Linked DNA regions of Homo sapiens: region 2 is linked to region 1. Evidence: fine-mapped expression QTL. A gene starts in region 1. The other region holds a variant in brackets. All regions are shown on one strand. Distances are from middle to middle.

What was found. PIP is the estimated chance that this variant, and not a neighbour inherited with it, causes the effect.
Region 2: its variant is the best candidate, but not a certain one, in a credible set for the expression of GIGYF1 in lung (TOPMed, PIP 0.72).

The regions. Positions count from the first base shown.
Region 1 is chr7:100,692,953-100,695,852 of GRCh38, forward strand. GIGYF1 (GRB10 interacting GYF protein 1) reads right to left here and starts at 1,298. Exons shown (of 27, transcript NM_001375765.1): 1 at 1,158-1,298. RefSeq lists a cis regulatory region at 372-1,865, silencers at 727-846, 1,017-1,116, 1,557-1,716 and an enhancer at 2,404-2,900.
Region 2 is chr7:100,728,254-100,731,153 of GRCh38, forward strand. No RefSeq gene overlaps it. Among named protein-coding and RNA genes, the nearest start is that of ZAN, 3.9 kb to the right of the region's middle. The variant G/C (reference allele first, on the strand shown) is at 1,213.

The DNA.
Region 1 (2,900 bases):
AAGGAGAGACCCTTACTGGTACCACCGATGGTGTTTCCATGCCAAAGGCGAGGGGTTGGCGGGGTTCTAAATTGAAACTTCTATATAGACTCGAAGAGGCAGTGCACAAGAGGGTGGGAAAGCTGACGATCTTCCAGAACGACACTTTGAGAGGCAGGAGGGAAGTAAGGCTTGGGTGGCTGGAAAAAAAAAATCCAATCCAGCTAACAAGTCTTTATGTAGCATCTCCTAGTTCCTAGCACTAGGATGCAACAGACCTGGAGTCTGACCGGGAATGCGAGTAATGACTGTATAACAGAGAAGAGAGACGAGGGGCTTTTAAAAAGTTACTCGGAAATTTTTTTGTTTTTTTTTTTTTTTAAGGCAAAGTGTGAGAGCTGTGGCCAGGGAGCTGCTGCACGGAGGGGCATGAGCTGAGAAGGGCCTGGCCTGGGACGGGGAGGACAAGCAGTCTCTGCTAAGGAAGGTATTTCCCGCGGCCGAGCAACTGGGAAGAAGGAGACCCCAATGACCCAGCACTAAGATCGCCGGAGCGAAAGGAAACAGAGGTGAGGAGGACCCAGGCGAGGTGCCTGGGTGGAGGGCAAGGCTTCCATGTTGGCCAAAGTCGTGGAACGCTTGGACCTGGGGAACCGCAAGGCCCAGCTCGTTCCGAGGGGAACCCAAAGGCGCGCTGGGGAGAACTCCGGGAAGCGCGGGGCCCGGCCACCCTAGGACGCTAGGGTCGGGGGCCCCCAGGCGGCCCAGGGCAGGGCTTGGCAGGGGCCCGGGGGCGACCGTTAGGAGCGCGGGGGTGGAAGGCAGCGCGCCGGCCCGGGAGGACGGCGTGCCCTTCAGGGAGGGGCGCCAGGTGCGAGGGGGGCGAGCGGTCGCCCCCTAAGCCGGGCGCCGGCCTCCCGGGGCCTCCCCGAGGCTGGCCGGCTCTGGGGGAGGGTCCCGGCGGCGGGGATGGGCCGGAGCGGGCGGGAGAGCGGGAGGACGCACCGGGCTGCGGCGGCCTCGGGGAGGAGACGGGGGAGGGTCCTCGCTGGCGGCCCGCGCGCTGGCTCCGGCGCTTCTCTAGCTCGCGGGCTCGGCGCGGCCGCCGCGGCGTCGGGGGCGGGCCTGCCCCGGGGCTGGGCTGCGGGCCGGGGGCCGCGGGGCCACTGGGCGCTTACCGCGGGCGGCGCGAGGGTCCGGTCCCGGGGCGTGGGCGGCGCGCGGCGGGCGGGGGCCGGGGACGGCGACGGCGGCTAGCAGCGGGGGAGGGGGCGCTGGCGCTCCCGCGGCGGCCGCTCCTCTGTGTTTGTGTTTGTAGCAAGATGGCTGCCCGCCTCGCACCACGTGACGCGGACGCGGGGCCGCGGGGCCGCCCCTTCCACCGCCGCCGCCGCCGCCGCCGCCGCCGCCGCCGCCGCCGCCGCCGCCGCCGCCGCCGCCGCCGCCGCCGCCTCCCTCCGCGGCTCCGGCCCGCGCCACCTCTCCTCGTGCGCTGCTCGCGTGCCGCGCGCGCCACTGCCCGGACGCCCGTCGCCCCCGACAGCCCCCCCCCTCCCCGCCCCGACACGTGACCTGGGCGCCCGGCTGGTCACGTGACGGGGGCCCCCAGCTGCGGGCGGGATCGGCCCCAGAGCGGCCTCCTCTCCCCCACCTCCCCCGGCCCCGCGACGCGCGACCTCTGGGACCGAGGCCGCGGCCTCCCTGGCGGTCCGGTTTCCTCCAGGAAGCCCGCCTGGATGACAGGAGACAATAAAATCCAGAACCCTTCATCAGGCGTCCTGGGATGTGTGAAATAAGTGGCTCAGGCAAATAAGTTGACTCTCAGGAGCCTCTTTATTTTTTTAATTATTTATTTAATTATTGAGACAGAGTGTTGCTCTGTCCCCCAGGTTGCAGTCCAGTGGCGCGATCTCGGCTCACTGCAGCCTCCGCCTCCCGGATTCAAGTGATTCTCATGCCTTGGCCTCCCGAGTAGCTGAGATTACAAGCACACACCACCACGTTTGGCTTATTTTTGTTGGCCAGGCTGGTCTAGAACTCCTGACCACTCAAGTGATCCGCCTGTCTCGCCCTCCCAAAGTGCTGGGATTACAGGCGTGAGCCACCGCGCCCGGCCCCTATTTATTTATTTTTTTGAAGCAGGGTCTCACTCTGTTGCCCCAGCTGCAGTGTACTAGCCCGATCTCGGCTTACGGCAGCCTCCAACTCCCGTGTCTCAAGCGATCCTCCCATCTCAGCCTCCTGAATTGTTGGGACTATAGGTGTGCACCATCACACCCAGATAACTTTTTTATTCTCTGTAAAGACTGGGCGGGTGGCGTGTCTCATAACATTGCCCAGGCTGGTCTTGAACTCCTGGTCTCAAGGGATCCTCCTGCCACAGCCTCTTGAGTAGCTGGGACTACAGCTGTGTGCCACCACACCCAACTAATTTTTTTAATTTATTGTATTTGTTGTTTGTTTGTTTTCCAAGACAGAGTCTTGCTCTGTCGCCCAGGCTGGAGTGCAGTGGCGCGATCACGGTTAACTGCATCCTGCGCCTCCTGGGCTCAAGCAATCCTCCTGCCTCAAGCACCCTGAGTAGCTAGGACTACCAGGGCACACCACCACGCCCAGCTTTTTTTTTTTTTTTTTTTTTTTTTTTGTAGAGACAGGGTTTCCCCCATGTTGCCCAGGCTGGTCTTGAACTCCTGGACCCAAATGATCCTCCTTCCAAAGTGCCGGGAACTCCTGGACCCAAATGGATCCTCCTTCCAAGGTGCCGGGATGACAGGCATGAGCCGCCACGCCTGGCCTCTCAAAAGCCTCCGTTTCTCTTACAGAAGGATGTTAACACTGCTCTGCACCCAACCCCCGACCCCCAACTCCACACTCTTCCTTGAGTGCTGTAAGAATTAAAATAAGTGAATGTGAAAGGCTTT
Region 2 (2,900 bases), 35 kb after region 1:
GAGTCACTGCACTCCATCTTGAGCAACAAGAGCGAGACTCCGTCTCAAAAAGAAAAAAAAAAGAGAGAGAGAGAGAGTCCCTTTTCTCTCTGACCCAGGATCACCAGGGAGAGGAAAGAGAAGAGATGGAGTGAATGAGACAGCTGTGGTCAGCAAGGCGTGTCCATCTTCCACGACCGACTCCTTCCCATTCAATCCCCTGCCTTGGGATCCTGCTTCTTCCCTGCATAGGCAGAAAGTACCTACCAACTTCCCTTCTTCCCAACTCCCTGCTCTGAGTACTGCGCTAGGAGCCAACTCAGCCACCTCCTGCAGCCCCAGCTCTCCATCTTAACTGCAGCCTCTCGCTCTTGGGTACTCACTGACTCAAATCCTCCCTCTGGGCCCAAGCATCAGGCTGAACAAAGACCTGTCCCTAGTTCACAGGTCACCTAGGATTCTTTTTTTTTTTCTTTGAGATGGGGTTTCGCTCTTGTTGCCCAGGCTGGAGTGCAATGGCGCGATCTCAGCTCACTGCAAACTTTGCCTCCCGGGTTCAAATGATTCTCCTGCCTCAGCCTCCTGAGTAGCTGGGATTACAGGCATGTGCCACCACACCTGGTTAATTTTGTATTTTTAGTACAGACAGGGTTTCTCCGTGTTGGTCAGGCTGGTCTCGAACCCCGACCTCAGGTGATCCACCTGCCTCAACCTCCCAAAGTGCTGGGATTACAGGCGTGAGCCACTGTGCCTGGCCAGTCACCTAGGGTTCTGCTGGAACTACTGAACTGTAGTTCAGTAGGTGATCTTACCACAGTAGGGTTTGTTGCTGGAGTTGCATTAGCTAAACAGGGTCTTTTAGACACTGGAATCTAAGCTGAAGGCTAATAATATTATTTGAAGATGGTGAAAGTTAATTCTACTAAAATTCCATCATAAAACTGTGGCATTGTGAAGGATTGTTGGCAACAAATAAATAGACGATAGTATAGTTTCTCAATTTATGGGAGTCATGGCCAAATGTCTCTAAACTCCCTTCTTTATTTAAGAAAATTGATTATTAAAAATGGCCAGTGGTTCACGCCTGTAATCCCAACACTTTGGGGGGCCAAGGTGGGCGGATCACCTGAGGTCAGGAGTTCGAGACCAGCCTGACCAACATGGTGAAATCCCGTCTCTACTAAAAATAAAAAATTAGCTGGGTGTGGTGGTGCATGCCTGTAATCCCAGCTA[G/C]TTGGAAGGTTGAGGCAGGAGAATTGCTTGAACCTGGGAGGCGGAGGTTGCAGTGAGCCAAGATCGTACCATTGCACTCCAGCCTGGGCAACAAGGGCAAAACAAGATAAAAAAAAAATTACGTGACCGGGCGCGGTGATGTACACTTGTAATACCAGCACTGTGGGAGGCCAAGGTGAGAGGATCACTTGAGGCTGGTAGTTTGAGACCAGCCTAGTCAACATAGTGAGATCCCTGTTTCTATAAAAAATTTGCTGGGCTACTAAAAAATAGACTGTAGTTCCAACTACTTGGGAGGCTGAGGTTGTAGTGAGCTATGATTGAGCCACTGAACTCTAACCTGGGTGATAGAGCAAGACACTGTCTCAAAAAAAAAAGTGACTGCCACACATAAATTTCTTTCTTTTATTATTATTATTATTATTATTTTTTGAGACAGAGTCTCACTCTGTCACCCAGGCTGGAGTGCAGTGGTGCGATCTCGGCTCACTGCAACCTACCCCTCCTGGGTTCAAGAGATTCTCCTGCCTCAGCCTCCTGAGTAGCTGGGACTACAGGTGCGCACCACCATGCCCAGCTAATTTTGTATTTTTAGTACATACGGGGTTTCACCATGTTGGCCAGGCTGATCTTGAACTCCTGGCCTCAGGTGATCTGCCCACCTTGGCCTCCCAAAGTGTTGGGATTATAGGTGTGAGCCACTGCACCCAGCCAACATCATAGATTTCTGGCTTTAAAAAAATCTTGGCTGTACTGATTGAGCCTCCTCCCCAATCTTACAGAGGAAGGAACTAAGACACAGAGAGGGTGAGAAAAGTTCCCAAAGACACACAGCAAATTTAGGACTGGGCTCCAGTTCTCTCAAGGGCTTTTCCACAGCCCAAGGTCTCTCACACCTGTTCCCACAGCTGCCAGTCTTGTCAAGGTTGCCAGTCTCTGGGGCGTTGCTGGTTCCTGGCTCCCTAAAATACAGGGCCCAAGGGTCCTCCCCCACTTTCCTGTCCTGCCGTGAGCCCCCCACCCCCACTTCCAGACGGATTGGGAGCTGTGACCCCCAGCTCTGTGGTCCCAAAGGGAGGTCAGCTAAAGCAGCTACCAGGGGACTTATTGCCCAACAGGGAGTGGCTATGATCAATGTCTTCTGCTCCTCTTCCCTGGGTTAACCATTTCCTGGCCCTGGCCCCTCTGTTAATTCCTCTGCTAACCTGGTATGGAGGAAGGGTGGACAAGGGCTTGGGATGGACACCATTGATATCCCCAGGTCTGACATAAACAGGCAGGGGGGTGCTCTCAGTCCTCAGATGTGATCCCTGCCTGAGCTCTGTTGGCATTCCATGGCGAGGCTCTTCAGCCTCATTTGGGCAGAAGCGGTCCTGGGGATTGCAAAAGGGCTTTCTTTTTCTTTTATTTATTTCTTTTTAGAAACAGAGTCTCCTTGTGTTGCCCAGGCTGGAGTGCAATGGTACAATCATAGCTCACTGCAGCCTTGAACTCCTGGGCTCAGGCGACCCTCCCGCCTCAGCCTTCTTTGTAACTGGAACTACAGGTGTGCACCACCATGCTTAGATAATTTTTGTATTTTTTGTGTAGAGGGTGGGTTCTCGCTATGTTGCCCAAGCTGGTCTCGAACTCCTGGGCTCAAGCAATCCTCCTACCTTGGCCTCCCAAAGTTCTGGGATTACAGGCAC